Linked DNA regions of Homo sapiens. The protein of the gene in region 6 purifies or fractionates together with the protein of the main gene of each other region. This does not show direct contact. Each region holds a gene or a part of one and is shown on either strand. Other genes may lie near its edges. The genes, in order: SEMA6A, TMEM131, UGT3A2, SPPL2B, TGFBR3, PTCH1 and TMEM132A.

What was found.
Region 1: the proteins of PTCH1 (region 6) and SEMA6A purify together in Homo sapiens (affinity purification with mass spectrometry; 3 studies listed by BioGRID and IntAct, with this or other methods). This does not show direct contact.
Region 2: the proteins of PTCH1 (region 6) and TMEM131 purify together in Homo sapiens (affinity purification with mass spectrometry; 3 studies listed by BioGRID and IntAct, with this or other methods). This does not show direct contact.
Region 3: the proteins of PTCH1 (region 6) and UGT3A2 purify together in Homo sapiens (affinity purification with mass spectrometry; 3 studies listed by BioGRID and IntAct, with this or other methods). This does not show direct contact.
Region 4: the proteins of PTCH1 (region 6) and SPPL2B purify together in Homo sapiens (affinity purification with mass spectrometry; 3 studies listed by BioGRID and IntAct, with this or other methods). This does not show direct contact.
Region 5: the proteins of PTCH1 (region 6) and TGFBR3 purify together in Homo sapiens (affinity purification with mass spectrometry; 3 studies listed by BioGRID and IntAct, with this or other methods). This does not show direct contact.
Region 7: the proteins of PTCH1 (region 6) and TMEM132A purify together in Homo sapiens (affinity purification with mass spectrometry; 3 studies listed by BioGRID and IntAct, with this or other methods). This does not show direct contact.

What each region holds. Positions count from the first base shown.
Region 1 is NC_000005.10:116,564,824-116,568,323, forward strand, and holds part of SEMA6A (semaphorin-6A isoform 2 precursor), read right to left. Parts: intron 1-3,500. UniProt on the Homo sapiens protein: Cell surface receptor for PLXNA2 that plays an important role in cell-cell signaling. Required for normal granule cell migration in the developing cerebellum.
Region 2 is NC_000002.12:97,814,449-97,817,948, forward strand, and holds part of TMEM131 (transmembrane protein 131 precursor), read right to left. Parts: intron 860-3,500; coding exon 751-859; intron 1-750.
Region 3 is NC_000005.10:36,064,083-36,068,078, forward strand, and holds the start of UGT3A2 (UDP-glucuronosyltransferase 3A2 isoform 1 precursor), read right to left. Parts: upstream 2,801-3,996; 5' UTR 2,708-2,800; coding exon 2,614-2,707; intron 269-2,613; coding exon 167-268; intron 1-166. UniProt on the Homo sapiens protein: UDP-glucuronosyltransferases catalyze phase II biotransformation reactions in which lipophilic substrates are conjugated with glucuronic acid to increase water solubility and enhance excretion.
Region 4 is NC_000019.10:2,342,184-2,345,683, reverse strand, and holds part of SPPL2B (signal peptide peptidase-like 2B isoform 2 precursor), read right to left. Parts: intron 2,474-3,500; coding exon 2,392-2,473; intron 1,720-2,391; coding exon 1,645-1,719; intron 1,323-1,644; coding exon 1,260-1,322; intron 1,132-1,259; coding exon 1,032-1,131; intron 432-1,031; coding exon 354-431; intron 1-353. UniProt on the Homo sapiens protein: Intramembrane-cleaving aspartic protease (I-CLiP) that cleaves type II membrane signal peptides in the hydrophobic plane of the membrane. Functions in ITM2B and TNF processing.
Region 5 is NC_000001.11:91,718,652-91,722,151, forward strand, and holds part of TGFBR3 (transforming growth factor beta receptor type 3 isoform a precursor), read right to left. Parts: intron 3,494-3,500; coding exon 3,304-3,493; intron 1,580-3,303; coding exon 1,242-1,579; intron 814-1,241; coding exon 661-813; intron 1-660. UniProt on the Homo sapiens protein: Cell surface receptor that regulates diverse cellular processes including cell proliferation, differentiation, migration, and apoptosis.
Region 6 is NC_000009.12:95,499,267-95,502,766, reverse strand, and holds part of PTCH1 (protein patched homolog 1), read left to right. Parts: intron 1-3,500.
Region 7 is NC_000011.10:60,930,960-60,934,459, reverse strand, and holds part of TMEM132A (transmembrane protein 132A isoform b precursor), read right to left. Parts: intron 2,775-3,500; coding exon of another isoform or gene 2,772-2,774; coding exon 2,576-2,771; intron 2,477-2,575; coding exon 2,333-2,476; intron 919-2,332; coding exon 716-918; intron 1-715. UniProt on the Homo sapiens protein: May play a role in embryonic and postnatal development of the brain. Increased resistance to cell death induced by serum starvation in cultured cells. Regulates cAMP-induced GFAP gene expression via STAT3 phosphorylation.

The DNA.
Region 1 (3,500 bases), on a different chromosome or scaffold from region 6:
AAATACAGTAAAATGGTCTCTAGCTCCTTAGCAATGAGTGTCAAGTGTAAAAAAGGAAAGGTTAAACCTGAAGTAAAGCTCTACATGTTTCCATTGCCAAAATAACACACGGCACACAGCAATCATGATGTCATTTTATTTATTTAGTAATCTGCAAAGCCAAAGCCAAATTATGGAGCAGAAATTTTAAGCAAAGTCATGAATGGCCTCATTTACCTCCACATTTGTGAATAGTCTTAATGAAGAGTTTGCGTCCCTTTGCTTTCTTGTTGAAATATGAAAGTGACATCAGCCTCTGTACTGTATTTTTATTTATTTATTTTTTTTGCCAGCAAGACTGAGCAAGAGGCAAATCCTGGATTAAATACCAGCTGGATGTGCACATAACAAGGTCCAGGGAGACACTCTCAGAAGTTGCCTCTTTTAATCCAACACTGAATTATACGAGAAGCGGTTTTCAGTCTTTCAGAGCACAACTGTCAAAATAACTGCAAGGCTTGCAAGCCCTAGTATATCTCAAACCTTTCCCAAGACACCCCAACACTATGTGAGGCACTGAAACTATGGCAACCGAATAAGAAAGCAGCCTCCATGATTAACAGATGAAGATCCCAGCGACAGTGTCTAGCTAGGGCCATCATTCATGATACAAGAAGAATTAGCACAGAATCCGTCTCGAAAACCATTAACAAGTATTCTTATAAAAATCAACTCCACTGCCATTCTGCCAATATACTTGAGTTTAGAATGCTACAAACAATTTGGTTTCTATTTATCGCTCACTATGCAGGAATGAGAATGTTCTTAGAAACTCAGATGCTCATGTTTTTAAAATAGTGAAAGGCTTAATAGAATGGTTTTCCACCTGGGTATTTTAGGCCTAAGAACAAATACATTGAAAAACCAAAATATGTGAATGAAATCAAGTGGCTCTCTGGGTAGAAAGGAGGAGGGACAGTTGTTGAATTGTTTTGAGTGTTTTTTTGTGGAATGCAATTTTTTGTAAAGCATTCCATTTTCAGGAAAGGAACGTTTCCATTCACCAGCTCAATCAGTATTCTCTCAGTTTCCTCATTCAAGGACAGTAGGAGTCTGGGGGAGGGGCGGGGAAGTGCTGAAGTCGCTGCAATATTAATGAAAAGACTGAATACTTTTCTTTAAAAAACGAATCAGGAATAGGAACAGGGAAAGAAGAATGGATCTATCACAGCTTGTCTGTAAAACCCTCATAGAACATTAAAACATAATTAATACAATCTTTATTTCTTCGTAGTCTCTAACAATGTTTATTTTCCAATGGCATGTTTTCATTGTATTTAATGCCAGATCCTGTTCTGTTCTATAAATGCTTCTAATCAAATCATGGCCAAAGGCTGGTCTTTGAAGCGTAGAGGGGCAGAAGGGCTAAGAAAGGCGTAAACAGCACCAACTTTAGAGCTTCTTCTGCTAAATTTTTTTAATTGGCATGGATTCTTTGAATTTAATGTTCTACAGATGACAATTATAGGTTAGTTGGAAATTCCTAGAAAGCACCTAGGAATATTAAAAGAAAGCTTCAAGTCTAAAGGCTGCATGAGGAAGTATCTATTACTAACAATGCTTTCTAAGCAAAAGTCACCATACTGGCTGCTAAGAAGGATCTGAAACTTCGGTCCTTGCAGCATGTTAATTACTGATTTATCTCACACTCTTTCCATTCTGTTTCCACTTACAGAGTTTGAGAACATTTTATTTCCTAGTTGAAAATAACTGTAACTCTAAGCCATGGAGGCATTCCTGGAAAACATAATGGTAGCAGGGAATTGTGGTGATAACATCAATTTATTTCCCCTTCTGCTGTGCCTTTTAGAAGTCAGATTTTTCTCACTGATAAGAACTTGTATGACTATCATTTGAATCAAATTTCAGGTTTTGTAGTAGTGTGTCTGTCAGCAGAATAACTGCTATCTCTACTGGGGTCAGCCAATTATTTCCTACCTTTGGTGTGGAAGGCAGTAGTTTGCTTTTGCTCCCAAATTGATTTCAAGCTTGGCCAGGGAAGAGTGACCTGGCAGATGCATGCCCAACCTGAAGACCCTCTTGCAGAAGTCCTAGCCACAACCTCCTCAAGGGTTCCAATCAGCAGCCGAGTTTCTCTCCTAAGACAGGTGTGGTCCTTGGGAATTCAACTCATCCCTAAAATTGTCATTATGAGTTGCTTTCAGATTCTAAATGTAGGTGCAGAGTGTACATTTTATTATTAAAATGTTAATAAGTGATAGCTATCATTTTTCAAAAACTATCCCTTGGGCTCCTATTTGATATAAGGCTCTGCTTGTTATTATTATTATTTTTTATATATAGTGGTTTTTTCCTTCCATGTTTTGGGTGTGATATTTCAAATTCCAAAGTTTCCCTGTTTCCTGTTTCCCTGCAAGTGATGTATTCACATGCTTCTCAACTTAAAACCCATGACATTATGGCCTGTTTATGGTATGAATGTTTGTTTCTAGTCCAAAGGTTGTTTTCTTTTGCATCATCTCTTTATATTACAGATTCGTAGCCATTTCCTTTTCTACTATTTCCCCTGCCCCCCAGAATAAAAGTACTATCTGCTTTTTCAAAATCCATTCCTAGGACATTTTTCGTAACTACTGTTACTCAAGTAAAAATAATACCTTATGTTGAATGACTGCTTGTTGTGTGCCCGGCATTGTGACATGCATTTTACAGATGTTAGCACATTTATTCTTCTCAAAACCATAACATTATCATCATACTAGCACTTTGCAAATGAAAACTGAAGGAGAAAGGAAACTGGCATAAAGTCACACTGTTGGTAAATGGCAAAACAAATCCACGTGCATTGTCTGTCAAAAAAGCATGACCTCCGCAATGCCTCTAGAGTTGTCCACTACCTTCCCTCCAACGGTCCCTTCACATTTATTAACCTCACGCCACAAGATCTAACGAATTCGGCCTTGTTATGACAAAGATGGAAACTTCTACTAGTCCTGGTTCACCCTGACATATTAATCGTTACACTGATTTGAACTATTTCAGAATTTAACTGAGCAAAAACAATTATCTTACTTTTAAACTAATTCCTGGCAGAATGGTACTCCTATGACCTTGCCTGATTTAATGATAATGTTGAAAGCAATGTTTCCTTGACATGGTAGGTGTTCTAATTAATAAAGTTGCTATCCATGCTCTAGGTGAACTGTACAATTTCAATGAATTTGAACATATTATTTAGTTGCATAATGTGATTTACATTAAAACTACATGAACAGTGTATATTCTACCAAAAATAATTTAGAAGATGAAGTAGGATCTCTGTTATATCCAGGGTCCAGAGTGGGAAAGAGGGGGTTAACATCAAACTTCCCAAATTTCCACAATGCGTGTAATATTTCACTAAATACATTCACATTCATGATTTCGTATTATTTTCCCAGTAATCCTATAAGTTAGGAAGAATAGGTTTACTATTTATAATTTTCAATTAAAATAATGCA
Region 2 (3,500 bases), on a different chromosome or scaffold from region 6:
ATCCAAGTTCTTCTGTTGTAAGTAATAATTTACATTTAGCATTAGGGATTGTATTAAAGATTTAGAACTATAATATTTTAGTGATTGACTATATGATTTAAAACAAAATTTAGCTTGCAAAATACTGAAATTAATACAAACAACCATTCTCTAATGAATTATATGAATCATACAATTAGAATCAAAGACATATCAACAAAAAAAGCTTTACTTTGAAAAAAATCATGCTTATCACTGAATTACAAGGAGCTTTGCTAAAATGAATCTTTGCCAAGTTGAGTATTAAACTACTATTGGTTAAAGTACAATAGAAAATGAACATGTCACTTCCCATTTATAAAAAGTTGTAATTCTAGAAGTGTTTATGAATTTATAAAGGAATATAAAGAATTCTGTTTCGAGTGTCAAAATACTTTAATAATAGGCCACAATCACTTACATATTACAAACAAATGTCAGAAAGGAAATGGTTCAAATGATTTAAATAATATTTAAAAAATCAGATTTTTGAATCATTAAGTCTTCATTTAAGCCCAAATCCTATCATCCCACTTACCCTTTTCTTCTAAAAAAGTAAAATATAAACAAAATATAGGAGGTTTTCTCTTTTATAGTTGGGGCTGTTCTTTCAAAAAATAATTCCATCAAGTTTATGTGAACGTGGCTAGTATTTCTGCAGGTCATTTAGCAGGAAAATATAATTTACTGATTAGTAAAAAGTAATAGAATTTATTTTAAAAAGAAACTCACCCATCTAAAACTTCTGCTTGATATGGTATTTCAAGTTTAGAATAACTCTTTTCCTTTGCTTTAACTGTTATTTTCCCAGAAAACTGAGATGGCTTTTTTGCCTTCGATGCTGAAAGGAAGCATAAAAAATAATCTCTGTTACCTTTTACTACCAAAGAGAATTAGTGAATTTATGTAAATTGACAAAATCTTAAAAAAAAAAAAAGTTGAGCTTCCAAATTGGCCAACAGAACACTTTTTATAACATTTTAAATGAAACATCACATTTTTCATACAAAAGGGGGAAAATGTTTTATATTTCCTGTAATAAGATAAGCAGATAAGGAATTAGCTGGTGAGCATGGTTCAGGAGGTAAAACACTGTACCTAAGCTGCTTTGCTGTAGCCACAGGCTTTGGCTTTACTTACAGCAGAATTTCTCATCCTTGGCACTGTTAACATTTTAGGCCAGATTAATTCTTCGTTGCGGAGGCTGTTGTGTGTACTGTAGGATGTTTAGCAGCATCCCGGACCTCTACTTGCTAGACGGCAGTAGCATCCCTGCAGCTGTGACTACCAAAATGCCTCTCTGCATTGCCAGATATCCCCTTGGAGGCAAAATTACCCCCCACTTAGCCCTGCTGATTTACACTTGAACTGAGAAAGAAATAACATTTCTTGTATGGCCAAAGTCTTGCTCTATCACCAATAAAGTAGCATGGTATAAGAAAAGTCAAGAATTCAGAGCTCTTCTCAAAAACCAGCCAACCCTAAAACTCATGGTATAAGAGGAGATAAATCCCCTCCTGTCATCATATTATATTGTCCTCATCTTAGATGAAGTAAAAACTTCAGATTTCATAGCAGTTTTGAATAATCCTGGCTGGGTGCAGTGCCTCACATCGGTAATCCCAGCACTTTGCCAGGCTGAGGCAGCCAGATCACCTGAGGTCAGGAGTTCGAGACAAACCTGGCCAACATGGTGAAACCCTGTCTCTACTAAAAACACAAAAACTAGCCAGGTGTGGTGGCACGTGCCTGTAATCTCAGCTAGTTGGCAGGCTGAGGCAGGAGAATCGCTTGAGCCTGGGAGGTGGAGGCTGCAGTGAGCCGAGATTGCGCCATTGCACTCCAGCCTGGGCAACAAAGCGAGACTCTGACCCAAAAAAACAAAAATTAAAAAATAAATAAATAAATAAGGAATTACAGAAATTGATTCAGTTGGGTCCAATCTAGGTACCCATTAGATGGTTCTTTTCAAAGCAAATAAAGAAGCTGTTTATGTTTATCCTCTTAGAGTACTTTAGGAACACTTCCATTTATGTGAAGAATTCATATGTGAGTTCCGCAAATGTGTGTCATCCAACCTCATGACAAAAAAGAACAAGGAAATGGTATGACATCTAGTGTTTGACTATGGCAGACACAGACTTTCCATTTTAAAAATTCCCATTCAGCCTCTTATTTCTCTGCTTGCTAGTTAGCCATCTCTGGATGCTTTCAATTTTTCACTATTTGTTCTGACGTAAGACTGATTACAAGGGCCACATTTAAGCATTTCATGACATTGTATCATACATAGCAAATAAAGTGGTCAAAAAGCTCAAGAAAATTCTGTTGAAAATCATGAAGAATAACTTTTGATGAGAAAGATGCTTGATAAATGAACACTGCAGAGTTAATACATATATAAGGTGCATTCTAACAATATTAAAAGTTAAATAACACACACTTCCTGACTGATTTTCACAGCAATCTCAGAGGTATTTTGTGTGGGGATCCAGCATGGCAGTGGGAGAGGTGAATGGTGGGGGGATTTTCACATGATATTAAAAACCTACTTTTAAGAAATGTAGCATTTGCTCTTAAAGATGCTTTCCCTTTGCTGTTGTTATTTAATTTTACATATTTCTTTAAGAAACAATTATCTTAGAGCCTACGATCTCAGAAGAACCAACACTAATGACATCGCATTTATCTCAAGAAGGGAAAGATTAAGTGGGTGGTCAATACAGGAGCTAGAGAAGAGTAGCTCTTCACCCTTGCAGAGCAGCTCTTCACCCTTGCAGACCATGTGGAGAATTTTCCGGCACATCTGTGAAGGGTGGGTCCTAAATGCTCTTATCCTGGCTGGGTGCAGTGCCTCACGTCGGTAATCCCAGCACTTTGCCAGGCTGAGGCAGCCAGATCACCTGAGGTCAGGAGTTTGAGACCAGCCTGGCCAACATGGTGAAACCCTGTCTCTACTAAAAATACAAAAATTAGCCGCCTCCTCCTCTGTAAGGGAAGACAATGTACCTCGTGATACTGACACTGGTAGGCATGAATGTGGTCTCTCAGCAGCATAGAGAACACTTTACCACAAATGTAGAAATTACTGTGGCATTAATGTCTTCTATAATACTATTTCTTGACAACTGTATCATGAAGTATGCTGCCTATGTGATTTTTATTCCTTGAGAGTCCTCACTGAGCTCACAGGATGAACCCTGAGGCCAGCCCCACCTCCGTAGCTGCTCCAGACCCTCCCTAGAACTCTCCACAGTGAGCAGCAGGCATAGATACTCTCATAAACACTGTGTGAAGTGTGCCAGTGTCCTCCTACATTCATTGATCAAATATTCTCATCCGATGAGGAGCTGAGCTTTACTATGTGGACTCTGAGCACAGATGGCTTTATCATAAAGCCAAAGTTTAAGCTTAATAGCAGCTACTCAGTTGCATGGGTGCCTATGAAAAAAGCCCTGTTCAGAGGTTCAATTCTCATTTAA
Region 3 (3,996 bases), on a different chromosome or scaffold from region 6:
TAGAGACTAAGAAGTTTTTTGGCACTTTACATACACACACACACAAGCTTTTCATCCTTCCAATTGAATTAGATTTTTAAAAAACATTTTGCTAAGCCTTTCTATGCAAACAGCATTTTGCTCTTTGCTTGGAGTAGGAGAAATCAAGAAAAGTGAGAAAAGATACCTGGCATAAAAGGACCTCTTTTGTGGTTAAGCATGGTGACATTATGACCGTGATCTTGAAGAATCTGAGAAACCCGGTCCATCAGTAGATAATGGCTTCCACCTAGGAACAATGCACAACTTCAGTTCTGGAATGATGAGAATACAGTGTCTGAAGTCAGTAGTGATCAATCCAGGAGAGGAAAGGTAAGGAAACAGAAGTGGATAGTGATTGGAGGAAGATGAGTTTTGCCAGTCTCCTCATGTCCCTCTGGGTAAAACCCAGCCCACTCACCCAGAGCATGGCCGCCCAAATTTTTACCTGTGGCTCTGGTCCGTGAGAGATTGCCTCTTGTGAATCACGGTATCCATGTCAGTGTAATGAGCTACTATGTGCTTAGCCATGGGAGTTCCTCATCCTGAGGTACATGTATATTTTAACTAAGGCCTTATGGAGACACAGAGTCCAAAAGAAATCACGGCACTGGTGGAAATACAGGTATGGTGTTGTACATATGAGTGTGAATAGTTCCTAAAAAACAATGAGAGCTGTTTCTGGGATCCTGCTCTTTGGACATTTCTGCTGCTGTAGGAGATAGAAACCTTAAGAGATTGGTCCAAGAAATCATCACTGGAACAGAAGGAATGAGGGGCCACTACTTAGAATCCAAATCCTTAAGATTCCAATGTATTTTGAAAGGATGTACTTAATTTAGGCCACACAATGATCAAGTTCTAATTAAGACATTTGAGGACAACTGTGGGGCGCTTGGGGTGGGCCTGCTGGATCCTGGTTGCACGAGAGACTAGGGAATCATTGATTCCAGAAACATCCATCCTAAGGAAAGAGAAGCTTGATCCTCAAAAGAGGTACAAGTTCCACGAAATCAATGTCTTCTCAGTACATGTTCTAATACACAGCCTTTGCTTGAATCTAAGGTTCTCAGCAGCAGAGAAAGGAAGATCAGAAGAGAAGGTAATGTAATAGTAAATACCAAAAGCCTGCGGGGTGGGGGTGGAAGGGAGTAGAGAAGTAGTGTTCAGCTCTCTGAATGACTCAGTTTACTTATACCCAGGCTTGAATAGTCTGGAGCAACAAGGGACGTATAAAGTACAAATCTGCAACAGGTCTTGCTCACATTTTAATCCACGTAAGAACAGGGAGCTGGGAAGAAGGGGTCCCCACAGAAACAGCTGTTAGCGGTGGATCTTGGGGAGTCAGGTGGCTTTCTGGGGCAAAAATCAGCATTCTAGCACCTCAGAAATGACATCAACTCCTTCTTGGAGCCTGAGGAAGGAGGGCTGTGTACTTTCAAGAAGTTAAGAAGCTCTGTTGCTTCACTGCTACTAACACTCAGAAAGAGGGGGAAAAAGTCTTCAAATGGACTTGCACTGTTTCTTAAACAGTGATTTTTGAAAATCCCCAGTGAAAAGGGCTTCAGAGTGGAAGTTGTGGTGAGCATGGTCTTGCAGTAAGAAAACCCTGAGTTAATTCCTCATGGGACATCAGGGAGGCCACAAGTGCTCTTAAGGAAGGCATCTCACTCCCCATCCTTCAATTGCCCTCTCAGGAAATGAAAATGGGCACTAAATTAGATGATCTGTGGTTCTTCCCAGCCCTACGAGCCCTAATTCTCCATGATCTAAAAGGAATCCATTAGAACCCACTATGGGTTGAAATAAAGTCTTGGGGAAGCTCGATCCTGAGATGATCCCTTTATGTTCATATATGTTTCTCTTTTATCTTCTATTCCCTTTGGGGTAAAAGTAAAAGAAGTAAAACTGAGACCCAAAATGCAGAATTAACAGTCCCATGAATCCCTCAAATAACGGTCAGCGGCACAGGTAAAAGGAAAGATACTCCAAAAGATGCGAATGACCTGGATCTTCTCCTCAGCCCTCGGCAGTTCTCCAGGTTTCCCCTGGTGGAAAACACTCCACTGGCATTGCAGCCATGAAATACCTGCCTGCGCCACCCTGGCTCCGGATGCAGCTTCACAACATTTGCAGTGCTGCCCTCAGGAGGGCCTTTCCCTGGTCTCCAAGAGCCTGAAAACGCTCACCACTGTTTCTACTGGAAGCTACTGTGCACCCACACACACGCACCCTCCGGAGCTTAAGGTGAGCCTCTGAAAGTCCCACTGCGCCCTGGAGAAGGCAGCCCAGGAACTCAAGCTCTGGGATGAGTCTCAAATTTCTGGCCCCAGCCCTGCGGGATGGGGGCGCGTCCTGAACAGGAAGAAGACAGTAAAGGAGAATCTCTTTTCTCCAAAACTTTCTTCCCCACCTCAGCAATAGAGGCCCCTCTCTGCCCCACAGCTGAATGGGCTTCTCCCTCCTCCAGCCGGGTCCGCAAGCCCAGCCTGGAAAATCACGTGGATGACTCTGATCAAGCGCTGTTCTCTGGAGCCCTGGCAGTGCGAGTATCCGGGACGCGCCTGTCTGGGAATTCTCCGGCCAAGCACTCACCTACTGTAGATATTGTCAGGATTTTGGCAGCCTCTGAGAGCAGGACCCCAGGGAGAAGGAAGCCCACTAGAAGAAGCACTCGCTGCCCAGCCATGCTCACTTCTACGGAAGCCGCGGATCTCAGCCTGGGCTGCGCGCCCTGCGCCCGGCTAAGGGACCCTGTGCACCTCAGTGCGCCAAAGGCACTGGCTGTGGGTAGAGGTAGGAGTAAGGATCCTGCCAGTCTTCTCTTCTGTCCATCCCCTCTTGCCCTCTGCCCCTCCTCCCTCGTGCTCCATTGGATAATCTATCCTCGCTCTACCAAACTACCAGCAGTCAGTAGGAGGGGTCGGTGAGCCCATACTTAACCCTGCTCTGCCCTTGTGATCACAGCCCTCCTGCCTGGAAAATCCTTACTGTGAGTGAGGAATGGCAGGGACCTCAGTAAATCGAGCTGATGAAAGCTCTATCTCCATGGGACCCACCTCTCTTTTGCAAAGGCTGTGTGAATTTACCTACTCTAGTTCCCTTCTAACTGCCTCTATTACCTCATACTGCCAGCCCCGCGATCTATTTCCTGAGAGACTTGCTTAAAATCTTGAGCTGATGTTCCAAGCCCAAGACCTCCCTGGAAGGGAATCCCCAAGGGAAATCAATCTACCATCCCTGGAATCTATCTCTTAGTGTCTCTTTAGAAGGTAACATTCCTGAAAAGAGGCTAGAGTCCTACCTCTGGAAGTCCAGGTCTGTCCCTGGAGGACTGAAATTCAAAAGCTGAGACTATCATTCTGAATGAGTATCCTGAAATAGGACTGGTGAATCTTTCCATAATTTCCAAGAGCACATGCTGATGACAGCTTGTAATTCTGCCTCCGTGCAATGTCAGCCCCAGTGAGGTCAGGGATCACCAGGTCCGGTAGTCCCCTTTACTCTCTATCCTCAAACTAAGACTTCCTTTAGGAAAGGCTTTCAGTGCAACTCTAAATAAGCAGAGAAATCCTTGGTTGCAGTGGGTCCTTGAATTCTGCGTGTTCTATTCCTGCCTTCTTCAGTCTACAGGGGTTATTTTTTCTCATTGGAATTTAAAGCATTACATTCTTATGCATTTGTGCATCCCTCACCTAGCCATGCCTATTGTGGAGAAAGAGGAGAGAGAGAGAGAGAGAGAGAGAGAGAGAGAGAGAGAGAGAGAGAGAAAAGTGTGGGAAGGGCGAGGTTTACCAGACATCACAAGGCTCCAGTTCGTCTTATTCTTGTACTTTTCATAATGCATTAGCAAAATAAAGGATTTGTTATCAAACTCCAAGATTTTTATTTATTCAACAATTATATTGATAGATTTTTTTTTTTTTTGAGACAGAGTCTCGCTCTGTCACCCAGGCTAGAGTGCAGTGGTGCACTCTC
Region 4 (3,500 bases), on a different chromosome or scaffold from region 6:
GTTGCAGGCACAGGCCCGGGGAGAATGAGAAAGAGGGGGATGCAGGCACGGGCCCAGGAAGAATGAGGAAGATGGGGACAGAGGCACAGGCCCAGGAAGAATGAGAAAGAGGGGGTTGCAGGCACAGGCCCGGGGAGAATGAGAAAGAGGGGGATGCAGGCACAGGCCCAGCCACCCGAGCCCAGCTCCCGGAGTGGCCAGGGGGTTAGGGTTAGGGTGTTATGGTTACGGTGTTAGAGTTGGAATTAGGGTTAGGGTTGGGGTTGGGGTTAGGGGTCAGGGTCAGGACAGAGGCTAAGTCGGGGTGGGGCTGGAGCCAGAGAGGCCAGCACGGGCCCAACCGAGGCACTTACCGATGGTGCAGGCCACGAAGTATACCCTGGAGGACTGTACCTGGATGTCAAACCTGTGGCAGTAGGCCACCAGCAGCCCTGGGGGAGGCACAGGGCGGAGGCTTACTCGGGCCCGCAGAGCCTCAGAGCAGGGGCTTCCTGGGAGCGGGCGGGCACCTGAGCACCTGTGGGCGCCGTGGGCCTCTCGCTGCCTGGTGGCTGCTGTCATTTCACAGACAGGCCACACGCTCGCTCGGGACAGGGCTGCCATGACTCTCAGTGGGTAAACTGAGACCACAGTGAGAACAAAGTCCAGGCAGACACACCTGGCAGGACCCTGGGGACACTGAGGCTGCGAGGGTACAGTCTCTGCCTTCTGCAGCAACATGAGCTCACTGGGACCCGGGATCCAGGCCCCAGCAAGGACCCCTGCACAACCCCGAGCAGGATGGGGTGAGGCTGTCTGCAATCGGGGGGCCTTCCCCGCTCCCTAGGAACAAAGGGGGTCCCTACCCCACCCAGGCAATGCCCTCGCTGCCCAGGCACCCAGGCCTCAACGGCCCCAACCTGCCCGACTCTGACCCTCAGGGCTTTATCTCCAGCCGACGGTGTGCGGGCCACTCACTCCCAAAGGCAAACCTCAGCCGCCCGGGGCCCTGCCCCACAGCGTGGACCCGTGTGCTCCACCCGCCTCAGTACCTGGCACCAAAATGTCTCCGAAACCCAGGAGGGAGAAGGGCCGGTCACACAGGGCCAGAGGTGAGGAGTTCAGCCTGGGCACCTTCAGGACCATGGGCAGCTGCAAAGACGGGAAGAGGACAATGTCCTCCAGGACCCTCACCCGGCCGCGGGATGCCTCGAGCCCTATCCGCTCCGCGCAACACCTTGACCCATGGCAACCTGAGACCCTGCAGTCAGAAGACACACCTTCTCACGGGTGGCTGAGTCCGAGGGCCCAGTGGCCACCTCCACCATGATGCTGCTCCCACTCTGCACAGAATGGGGTTGAGTGAGGGAGCGTGGTGATGGGGTGGGGGGGCAGGGGAGTGGGGTGATGGGGCGAGGGGGCAGGGTGATGCGATGGGGGGGTGCAAGGGGCAGGGTGATGGGGGGTGATGGGGCAGGGGAGCAGGGTGATGGGGTGGAGGTGAGCGGGGTGATGGGGTGGGGGGCAGGGGAGCACGGTGTGGGGTGGAGGGGGACGAGGGGGCGGGACGAGGGGGCGGGGTGATGGGGGGGGTGATGGGGCGGGGGTTGCGAGGGGGCGGGGGAGCGGGGTGATGGGGTGGAGCAGGGACAGGCAGTCGCCTACCTTGGTCAGGAAGGGCGTGATGAACACGAAGAAGATGTCGTAGAGGAACAGCACCAGCAGCAGCAGCGTGCAGGCCTGCGAAGCCCACGGCTGAGGGCGGCCCCCACCCCGGCCCGTGCCTCCCCCACTCCCATCTCATGAGGCCCAGCGCCTCCTCCTGGGAGGCAGCCTTTAAAGGAACCTGAGCAGAGCGTGCCCAGTGCCAGGGACGCACCACGCAGGAGGAGCTTTGGAAGCAACATCAGGTAGGGATTTACGGGCAAAAGTCAGGCTTTTAGAGTCTCCACGTAACAGGAAGGCGGGGACGGGAGGGCGGAGGCCTGTGCCACGCAGGGCCGGCTCTGGGGATACAGAGGGCCATCCTGGGCATTCAAATGCCGCTTGCTTGGGGTGCTGTGGGGCCCTCACGGGAGTGCAGCCGCCTGGGGCTTGACAACATCCCCGCACTCCCGGTACCACCTGAGGCCAGTTCCTCCAGCCCTATTCAACCACTCTCACCACCACCTCATCTAGACATGAGTTGCCCCTGCCGGGAACCGCCCCGCAGCCACCCACCCAGGCCGCCTCAGCGGGGGCTTTGGGACCCAATCTTCAAGCCCCACCCTTCACAACAGGCCTAGGCGGCCATCCCCAGGGCAGTGAGCAGGAGCACAGACCTGCAAGGACCACAGCCCCACACGGGCCAGGCTAGGATGAAGGGCCCCCACTACCCATGCTGCCCCGCAGCCGTGCCCTCCCTGCACTCACCTTGAAGGTGGGCAGACGGATGGTCTTCAGCATGTAGAGGCAGAAGGCGATGCCCAGGGCATCCTGGAGGACCCAGGCCCACCTGCAAGACAAAGCAGCATCCTCGCCGGGGCAGAGGCTGGCTGACCACCCAGGACGCCGCCTCCCACGAGCCACACAGGGCCCTTGCTCTCAGCCAGCACGCAGCCCCACTGCCCTTCCACCTGCCCAGGGGATGACTCTGAGGACCCCAGACCTGTGGGAGGACCCCTGCTGTTACAACTCCAGCAGGGCTGGCGGCACAGGCCCCACCCCAGGGCCCACCCTGCGGAAGCAGGTAGAGGAGCCCACCACTCGGCAGCCAGGACAGTGGACACAGGCCTGGCCGGCTGCGTCTCCTCGGTCGCTGTCCCCAGATGGTGGGGCCAGGACGGTGGACACGGGCCTGGCCGGCTGCGTCCCCTCAGTCGCTGTCCCCGGATGGTGGGGCCAGGATGGTGGACACGGGCCTGGCCGGCTGCGTCCCCTCAGTCACTGTCCCCGGATGGTGGGCGTCACGCTGTAGGCAGGGGTCACAGGCTGTAGGCAGGGGCCAGGCAGAGGGTGCGTGCGCAGGAGGGCTTGGGCACTGACCCCTCCAAACTGTTTTTATTTTGTTTTTGAGATGGAGTCTCACTCTGTCACCCAGGCTGGAGTTTGGTGGCACGATCTTGACTCGCTGCAACCTCCACCTCCCAGGTTCAAGCAATTCTCCTGCCTCAGCCTCCCAAGTAGCTGGGATTACAGGCACACACCACAATGCCAGGCAAATTTTTTTGTATTTTTAGTAGAGATGGGGTTTTGTCATGTTGGCCAGGCTGGTCTCAAACTCCTGACCTCAAGTGATCTGCCCGCCTCACCTCCCAAAGTGCTGGGATTACAGGCATGAGCCCCCGTGCCCAAACTGTTTATTAAATTAAAACTTGTGCCACACCAGGTTTCCTCAAAGAACCTCTGGGTCCACAGTGGGTGGGGCTGCCATGCGGTTGGTGCCCTGGGGCAAAGCACAGAACTGCCTCCTGCACAAGGCCACGGCCCCTGCAGCCAGCCGCAACTTCGGCTCTCTCCTGGCCCCACGAAGCCCCAGAGTC
Region 5 (3,500 bases), on a different chromosome or scaffold from region 6:
AAAGATTTTGACCAACTGAGAAGAAAGATTTCTGGAAAATGCAGCTTAGCTATTGCAACGGTTTATCATTGGGGGAAATCTGTGGAATCTTTCTCCAAGTAACTTCAAAAGTAGGAGAGTTTCTTCAATGTATGGTCTTTCTTAGAGGTGGAGAGAGACTTAATAATTCCTTAAAGGTCCTTTTTGAGTTTTAAATTCTCTTTTTGGATTTTTATTCATGAAGGAGGGAGAAGTTCTCCTACTTCTGGACGAGACTCAAATGAGGCCAGAGAGACCACACATCTGGTTAACCCGGCTGTGCAGAGGTGCTGCTCGTTCATATAGCCCAGGGCCTTAAAATTTTATCCTTATAAGGGCCAGTTGAGCTTGGGCACTGAGAGAAGTCATAATCACCTTGACAGTGCAGCCTTTGTCATCAGGAGACGGAAACGGGGGGTGAGAAAACAGGCCTTCCAATTCCCAAAGACTCACCAATAAAACAAATAAAACCAAAGAGCTCAGGGTCAAAGTACATCCATTTTGTTGAGAACTGACACTTGGCTTTCTTCAGGCCTGGGGTGAAAACCCTCTTCATCTTCAAAGAAATGTTAAGACTAACTTTAAGGGAGCACACAGCCAGGCTCTGGCAAAGGGCAAAGCTTTGTTCTGGAAAACACTCACGGAGTTATAGTAGACCACACCATCAAGGGCTGACCACCGGGGCCGAGTACCGCAGCCATTCAGAGGAGACTCCAAAACAAAGTGTGTGCCATTCATCTTGGCCTTGCAGGTAGGATCCAACAGGGTGACGTCCATCCCCGAGTAGCCACTGGCCTAAAACAACAACCACCAAAGACATGGTTGGAGGCCCACAGGCAGTTCTGTTGTATAATTGACACAATTGACAATTGCCTGGTCTTCCAAGGACAGGCGATGAGAGGCCTGCATCGTGCCCCTTCCCCAAGTATCTCTTCCCAGCTGCCCACCTCTCAACAGCTCAAGGGTAGTATCTGTTGGCCTTGGAAATTCAATAGCAAAATATTGACACACAAGGATCTGGAACCCCCACCCCCTGTCACTGAGAACAACAGGAACCAGGTGAGAATCACAGCCAAGGGGAAGTAGGCCCATCCAACTGAGAAAACAGTATCAAGCCTCCGGAGTTCAAAAATGAAAGAGATAGGGAGAAATTACAGATGCAGACTAGGGCCAGATGGGAAAGGAGGTAGCCTCTCTTCCCTCCTGTAATCAGCTGCACCGACCTGAAAAGAATCTTTTTCTACAGCCACGATCATCTTCTCATTGTCACATTTGACAGACAGGGCAATATCCACGCTCCCTTGCACCTCTTCTGGCTCTCTGAGACCAGGAAACAGTTGTATGCTGGGAATGACAGGGTCCTTTGGCCGAGGGAGCCCATCTTCTCCCTCTTCATTCCAGACTCTCCTGGAAATATCTGGGAAAGGAAACGGAAGGCCTCCATTTTGGCCTTCCCCTCCCCGGATGGGCGGGTTCTGCAGGGCAGGCAGGGCACCAGGGTCCAGCAGGATCCGTAGCTCAGGAGGAATAGTGTGGACTTCCTCATCTCCCATCTCCTCTGCTGGTGAAAGAAGAAGGCAAAACATCAGCAGTGTTTGATGCCAGGCCACAACCAACATCATTACAGGCAGAACAGGAGGAATTAGCATAGAATGGGCAGGTGTAAAATGACTTTTAATAAGCAGTGCATAAAGGTCATTAGAAGTCTAGAAGCCTGAATTCTAGTCCTGGTGTTCTCTCTAACTAGCTCAGTGGCTTTAGGCAAGCGGCTTGCTTCTCTGTGCCTCAAATTTGCTTTTCCAATTTTTTAAATTAAGTGGTTGGAAATGATCAGTGGTTCTTAACTTTGGCTACACATGAAAATCACTTGGGAGCTTTAAAAAATATTCCTACGCCCAGGTTGTACCCCAAACAATTTAAACTCAGACTCTCTGGGGTGGTACCCAATCATTAATATGTTTTAGTCTCTCCATGTGTAACTGCAATGTGCACCTAAGACTGAGAACCAATGGAACAGACAGTTTCTAAGGCTGTCCAAGCTAGAAAAATCTGTGATTTAAGTTACATGATGCAATATTATTCCATTGAAATGCCACTAAAATACTTTCCTTGAATCAAGAGAGTCTTTTGAATAATTTCTCTAATGATGTCTTGAAACAATATTGGTATGTTAAAATTACTTCACCACCTTCTTTTTGACAGCTAAATTTTAACAGGTATCTGGGCACCTTGGCCTTTTGGAACATATTCCCTTGAAAGATAAGAAATAGCTGCATAGATACATTTATTCCTTCAAAGGGAGAGACGTATTTCCATACAATCAATACTCAATATTTTGTCGTATTTCTAACAACTAAAAAAATAATAATTTCCCCAGTATTCTTTATATCTACTATCTAAGGCCAACTGATGTACACTTGAGGTCAAATCCATCTCAGTGGAAGCTGGAAGTGAAGATGATAGTTGGACATTATCTCTCCTTTAATAATATTCTTTGGAAAGGACGCTAGAGCTGTAAGGGTCCAAAATAAGTCATAGCTTTGTAGGGTTTTTAATTTGTACTTTCACGAAAACCTTCACAACAACCCTGTAAGGTCTGTCCTATTATTTTCCCCTTATTACTGAAGAAAAATCTGTGGCTCAGAGGTGAAGCAACTTCTCCCCAAACAGTGACTAAATGGTAGAGCTGGGGCTTGAACCTGTACTCCTAATCCTTATTCTATTGGCATTTCACTCAGTGGTGGTACCATGAGCTGAGGAACAGGTCTAGGGATCACAAAACTAGGGTTTCAAGTCATGCTAGCTAGAAGACTCCAGAAAACCTCAAGAATTTGTTGACCCTCTGCTTTCCACCCCATTCAGCTGGGGTAGTAACTCCTGCCATCCTCTGGGTATGAACACTCAAGTATGAGTCCTCGTGACTATTTTCCTAAAAGATACAGCCTTTTACCATGAACTTCTTTCCTGCAGTCTTAACTCTTCTGTATTCTCAGCCATAAGTGGTCATTAGGTGTCTCGGAGAGAAGAACCTAATGTAATCACACTAAAGATAACCTATAACAAAGTTCTCTGAATATGCATTCAACTCTATGTCACTGAAAATCTGTATTACAGTTTCCTCAAAATCTCTGTCTAGGTAATTTTAAGCCTTCTGATAAAAAGTAGTCAAATTATTAAAATGTACAAGAGAAAAACAGCAACATATAAGCTGAAATGACAGTTCCTCACTGGAAAAGCTTCATTTGGGGGGTATTTTTTACATAACTTAAAAAACTTCTAACTTACCATTATTTTCAAGCCGAAGATGAAATCTATTAGCCACAGGAGCCATTGTGTATGAAGTTATTGGACTATAGCCATTGTCCAAAGCCCACTTCACCAGATTCCCTTGGGTTGAAGGAATGTCATCTCTTATTGATTTGGTCATTGTCATAGATCTTTCACTCTCTTTTCCAAAGCCAATACTGTTAGGAGCCTGAAGA
Region 6 (3,500 bases):
AATATATGCTAGATGAGAAAGAGTCCGTGTGTGTGCATGCGCGTGTGTGTGCGTGTGTAGGAATTGGTGATAAGAATTATTGTATTCTGTTGTTAAAATGTCCATATAATGATTGCCTTTTAATAAACTGTCAATTATATGTTAAGATACCAGCTTGAGTTTTAGGGTTATAGTGTTTGCTAATCAAAATTGTCAAATCAGTTTCACATATGTGCGGAGTAATGAGGTTTGATAGAGAATATGTTGACTGATGTAGTGGACATCTGCTGTTGCAGAAACACATGACCATGGCAGCAAGGTGGGGGAGAAACTAATTGTCATTGTATAAAAATAGAAGCGTTCATTCTGCACATGTTCTCAGTACCTACTCTGCACCACCATTGCAGAAAGCTCTCCAGAGAGATGTTGGTGAAAAGCCACAGTCTCTGCCCTCAGGGGAACTCCATCCAAACATTCAGCAGGTACACGGACTGGTGTGTGGGTAGTTAACATGAAGGACAGCAGTGCCAAGATGGCAGGAAAATCGGGGACATCTTCCAGGATGGCCTCAAGGGTGGAGGCCTGAGCTAGGCACAGGGGCTGGAGGGGAGAGGGTAGGGGGCATTCAGGGCAGAAGGAACAGCATAGGCAAAGGCTCAGAGAACAGGAATGTGGCCTCCTGGAGGGCAGCCTCCCTTTGTGGGTCGTTGAGGTTGGGTGGGAGCCTGGAAGCTGGGCTCGTCCCTCAGGGCCATTTCACAGAAGTCTCCCTGCTTGGCTGGGGGCTGTCAGCTCTTCCTACTAGCCATCCCTGTCTCACGAGTGTGCTCACGTGTTGGCCTCTAGTGTTTTCCCTGGAGCCACGAATGCTTCACCTGGATCTCACCTTTCTGGGCACAGACTGGTGTTATTTTTAATCTTGCCTGTTTCTTTGTTGGTATTTCCTTTTTGTTAAGCAGTTTTAACCCATCTCCCTCAGTATCTATTTCTTTTCATATCAGCCCCCTCACTGCAGCCCTCCCTCAGAACAAGTTTCTTGTCAAGCTTCTCCAGCGATAGAACATTCATTTATTTCTTTGAGCTTTTTGTTTTTTCTAAAAGCTTGCCCAGCTCCTGGCCTCCTTTTCTGCAGAGGGCAGCAGCCTTGTAATGAATCCATATTGCTTTGGTGTTTGGATGTTAACATTGCTGCAGGCCAGCGTCAAGGAAGAAGGAGGCAAGTTGTGACTTTGACTTTTTTTTTTTTTTAAGAAAAATAGAAGAAATTGTTTTTTAAAATACATGCTTGGTATGTGTAAGTGCTTTCAAGTTTGTACCTTGCTAGTGTTAATGCTTTCAGTGTTCTTGAACTCAGGCAATCAGTTGTAGGAGATAACTGAGTTTCACCACTCCTTCAATTTGGAGCAAGGTCCCTCAACCTCAGGACTATTGACATTGGGGCTGGATCATCCTCTGTTGTTGGGGGCTGTTCTGTGCACTATAAGATGTTTAGCAGCATCCTGGTTTCTACCTACTAGATGCCAGTAGCACCCTCCCAGTTGTGACAACCAGAATGTTTCCAGTCATTGCCAGATGTCACTGGGGGAGAGGGTGTCCCAAATCATCACGATTGAGACCCACTGGTTTAGATGATAAAAAGATTTTGATTGGAAGACTCATGCTGTGCAGATGGAAGACGTTTATTATGATGGAGTTGTGGCTACAATGCATTGCAGAGATGCAAGAGTATTAATCTTCTTTAAGATAACTCCCCCATCCCATTCCTGTATTTATAGACCCAGATAACTATTTTTCTTAGAATGACATTAAATGTCAAAGAAAAACACCGTGATGGGTCGAAAGAGGAAAGAGGCCATGGAAGAAAGAAATAATTTATATTTGGGTACCTTTTGGTGGGGGGTATCTAAATTTGCAGAAAGACTGGTTGCACCTCAACCCCAGTAGCCTGAAGGTTTTTAGCATGGTTGACTTTCTGAAAAGCTTTAATAGAAGACACCACTGCCTTTGTGCATATTGAAATAACAGCTCCTTCAGAAGCCCGGCTAGTGTGTGAACTCCTTGGTGGTCTCATTCTCCTCCAGATGTTTCTGTCACAAACCACTCCCCCTTGTCCCCCCAGGAGCCCTTGTGGAGCAGAACCAAGGGACAGCAAGGGACCAGTCCCAGCCAGAAGGGCAGAATGGATTCTGCTGTCACTGCCCTTCCACAGTGAGCACCTGGTTTCTTTTCTCTGGGGTTGCCATTGTGGGGGCATTTCACAAGGGACAGGAAGAAAAATGCAGCTCCTTTCTGCTCCCTGGACCCCCATACATGGTTTAGAAGGGAGAATATGTTTATAGGTATTTATTAGTTTCTACTACTGGGTATGCACATTTAGGTGGAAGCAGTTGTGATATTTCTTTCATATTTGGAGAAAAACGATTGGAAATGAGAAGCCACCAATGATTGTTTAAAAAAGAACAAATAGCCCTCAGGTGTCTTCTACACAGGGCAGTTGACCCTGCGAATCCTCCCTATCTCTTTGCTGTCTGCCATTCTTGACCCTTCACCAAGTTGAGAGGACAGGTTGGGTAATGGGGTGTTTCAGATACATAGGATGCCGCTCAGAGGTTCCAGAAGATGACAGCTTCCAGATGTATGAACAGCCTGATCCGTGTGTTTAGATTATGCACCACAGCTGATGCCGAGATTAATGCTGGCTGGACAAGCCATGGGAGATTTGTCTGGTTTCCACAATGCCATGTTTATGTTTCATTTGAGTTTCTCCTTCAAAGCTGACCTGCCTGTGACCCTGGGCTCTGTCCACTCGGGCAAGCTGAAACTCGGGCAAGCTGAAACTCGTCTGCCCTGTTCTCCTGCTTGTATTGGGGTAGGGGAGAGTCACAATTGGGCGGAGAAAGGGGCGCTTTGGTGGCCGCCTTCTGCCTCACCATGCCAGCTATCTGCCCAGATTTAGCCCCTGATGAGTGTTCAGTTCTCCTCGGGGATGTGTTTCACTGTAAAAGGTTTTTTGGCTTTTAAAACAAATATGGAAATATTATAAAATAACTGTAAAGGGGACCAGATTTAATAGAAGCCACTTTGCATAAATGTAGTATTTTAACTTCTGGCACTCTTTTGACACTATTTAGGGGGAGAAAAAGTTGAGGGAATTTCAGCTATGTCAGACACCCCCACATAATAACCATGGCTGTGTCATCCTATTATAATACTATTAATGTTTCCTGTGCCCCTCGCTGGCTCCCAGAACCTCTGCTGCCTCCTCCCTCTCTCCCCTGCCCCCTTCCCTCCTGCCCCTTCTCCCGCCCACCCACTCTAACCTGCCCACGTCATTTCCTTCCAAGTGGATCTCTGCAGTTACTAGTGTGAACTCTGAAATGGTAGTAAGTCTGGCTAATCACAACCTAAGAGGAGGGAATGAGAACATTTATTATTTCAAGCCAGCTGTGGGAGATACTAGATACAGAGCTGCCATTTGCATCCTTGGCATTCTTATTTTGGTTAGGGTTGGTTCCAAGACC
Region 7 (3,500 bases), on a different chromosome or scaffold from region 6:
GTCAGCGCTGAGCGGCCCCAGCCTGCCCAGGGCCCAGCTGCTGGAGACCCGCAGCTCGTCCCCGGCGGCTCCTAATCACCAGCAGCTCCTGTTTCTCAAACGCAGACATCCGCCCCTCTTGGGGTCAGGCCCTTCCACCTGCAGGCGAGCCGCCCCAGCCCACTCCCGACTGGCGCTGTGCCTCGATCACCGCTCTTGCTCCCAAGTGGACCGCAGGGGAGACGCTCTCTTACGGGGACCCTGGGGGCGCTCACTCTCTGAAGGGCCTGGAAGCTAGATTCCAGAGGCGTGGGCCACCTCTCCCTGGGTTTTGGGGAGCCCCCTCCGAGGGTGTTCATTTCCTGAGCTCTGTGTCATCTTAGGCTCTGAGGGTACGACCAGCATAGACAGACCGCAGCTTCAAGGGGCTGACATTCTCGGGGGAGGAGCGTGGAAAGGATGGACAGGCAACATTAACCAGTACTGACGTAGATTAGGAAGTGGAGGGTGCTACGGGAGAAGTGAGGCAGGGAAGGAGGAGAGGGATGCGGAAGTCAGCAATTTCACAGAAAGCGATCATTGGCTGGGCGGCCCAGGGTGGAGGTGGGCAGAAGGAACTGCAAGCAACAGGGCAGTTTTTCTGACCCCGACTTGGGCCCATGGCTGTGTCCCCTGCGCCCTCTCCGTCCCAGTGTGACTCGCCAAGGCCTGCCAGCTTCCTCAGGCCTCCACTCACCCTTCAGCAGGGCCAGGTACCCTCCAGCCGCGGACCTGCTCGAGGGTGGTGTCGGTGAGCTCGATACGCAGCGGTAGCAGGGGGGCCCACACGGTCAGCCGCAGCGAGGCGCGGAGCCGGCGCCACCAGAAGTCCACTCGCACCCCCCGGGCGCCCCGGCTCTCCTTGCCAGCCACGAACACGGCATCACAGGCCTCAGACACCTATGGAAGGGCAGAGGGCAGGTGGGCGGGCTAAGCCACTAAAGACAGGTGTGAGGCTGGGCCGGGTGGGTGGCTCATGCCTGTAGTCCCAGCACTCTGAGAGGCCGAGGTGGGTGGATCGCTTGAGTCCAGGAGTTTGAGACCAGCCTGGGCAACATGGCAAAACTCCCTCTCTACAAAAAATACAATAAATCAGCCGGGTGTGGTGGCACATGCCTGTAGTCCTAGCTACTGGGGAGGCTGAGGTGGGAGGATCCCTTGAGCCTGGGTAGCTGAGACTGCAGTGAGCCGGACTGTACCATTGCACTCCAGCCTGGGGACAGAGTGAGACTCTGTTTCAAAATAAATAGATTAAAAAAAAAAAAAAGGCATGGGCCAGAAGAGAGCAGCCCTGACCTCAGGCCGTAGGACGGGCTCCCACTGAGTTCAGCTCTGTGTGTCACTGGAATGCATGTTGCAGCAGGATTGTTGGTTAAGCCCCTGTTCTTTGTTTAAGATTTTACTGTAGGGGCCATTCCTTGAGGTTCCCTGGGGCTCAGTCAGGGGAACTGGCCATTGCATACCAGTCTTCCTCCTGGCAGAGCAGGGGTGTGAACCCAAAACTTTGGCTCCTTATTCATGCTGGCCTTTGACATTGCTCTTGGAGCCACCTGGCAACCAGCTACAGCCAGGTAGGCAGAGGTGGGACAAAGCAGATCTCCCACCAAGGCCCTCCAGCAGGAACCACACACATTTGAGCAAAGGACCACAAGTGGGGAAAGGCACCTTCCCCCTTCAGGTGGCTGGGATTTGCATACATGCAGACTCCATGCTTCCCCTCTTAGAACTTCAAGATAGAGGAAGTTGCTCTACCACCCTCCCTTTTATTTCACTTCACAATCACCGGTAATAATAATAATAATAATTTTTACCATTGTATAATTATTACATCATATTATAACAGCAATAACTGCCATTGTTTCAGCCCCTGCTATCTGCTAAATACTGTCTTAAAGTGCTTTTAATTCTTACAACAACCCGAAGATATGTTCTCATTTTAAAGTTTAGGTAACGAGGCTCAGAGAGGTTAAGAGACCAGCCCATGATCACAAAGCTGGTTGACAACAAAGATGTGTTTCAAACTAAAACTTTCTGATCCCAGAGTATGTGCTCTCGACTCTCTCAGGCCAGCGCACTTGCCAGTGCAATAATGAGCGTGAAAGTGTCTAAGGTCGGGGGGCTGTTAGGGTTACTTGACTCGGGAGAGAGGTGGCTGGAACAAAAGAAGTTGAAGCTGTGGTTCCTCCCATGAGGTTTCTCGTCTCAAGAAGAAGCTGTTCTCTTGGGGACCCACATGAGGAAGGAGGAAAGGTGTGTGTGCGTAACTGTGCCCACACAAATGCAGACTCACATGAGCTGGGCACCTGCCACTCACCTGCAGGACCTGTGTGTTGGCAGACTCGCAGCCGACATGCTCTGTCACCTCCACCAAGGCCCCCCCGCCGTCCACAGTGACAAGGCGCACGGGGACATGCTGGGGCACTCCAGTCAGTGGTGCTGTATTCACCAGCTCCTCAGCCTGGGGGTGGAGGAGGGGCTCAGCCCCAGGCCCCTCAGCTCATGGGGCTCCTGGGACTTGGCCTCCAGCCTTCCCAGGCAGAGATGGAGGTCTCCTTACCTTGGCCAGTGGGATAAGGGCTCTGATGTCCCGCTCAGACACCAGGATTTCCCACACCATTTTGTCCTTCTCTGCTTCAGGGGCCTGGCCTGGGTACTCCAGCTGCCACGTGACGGGGCGAGTGACCGCTACGCCCCCACCAGTGCTATTCTCCACCACAAAGTCCACCCATAGGAACTCAGACAGTTCAAGGGGACTGCTGGCCAAAGGAGACAGAGAAGCCAAATGCTTGCTAGCTGCCAGGCATGGCCTCAGCACTTCCTGCATTCATGATTATCCCCATTTTACACAGGAGGAAACTGAGGCACAGAGGTTACATAGCTCACTTAAGACCACACAGCAAAAAGTAGCGGGGCTGGGATCTAAACCCAAGCATCCTCGCTCTAGACCCCAAACTCTGACCCACTCTTGGCCTCTCTAAGATCCATGAAGCCATTTAACCACCTCCCACCTGGCAAGGTGGCTCACTCCCCTGCCTGCCCGGGCCCGCTTCCCCCAGACTTCCGCTTTCCACAGCCACTGAGGTGGCATGCGGGAGATTCACTTCCAGGTCCCAGGACCAGACACTTGACCCTCTGAATGATAAGCTTCCTTTGATCAAACAAAAACCTATGTGCTGGGAACCGTCCTGGGTGCCTGATATGTAGCACTGTATTTTATTTTCAAAAATGCTAAGGGATGCATTATTATTCCTATTTCACAAGTGAAGAAACTGAGGCTTGGGTAGGGGAATGTTAACTGGCTTGCCCAAGGTTTTGCCCATCCCAAAAGCATCAGAACCAGAATTCGAACTGGGGCTACTGAGTCCATGGCCTTGACCCAGGCTCAGGGCATGAATAAGAAGAGTTCACAACCGCAGAACTGCAGCTGGGCTTTTTGGGGGAATGTGAACGGCCCAGAGAAAGGATCATTTGGTGGAAGCAGG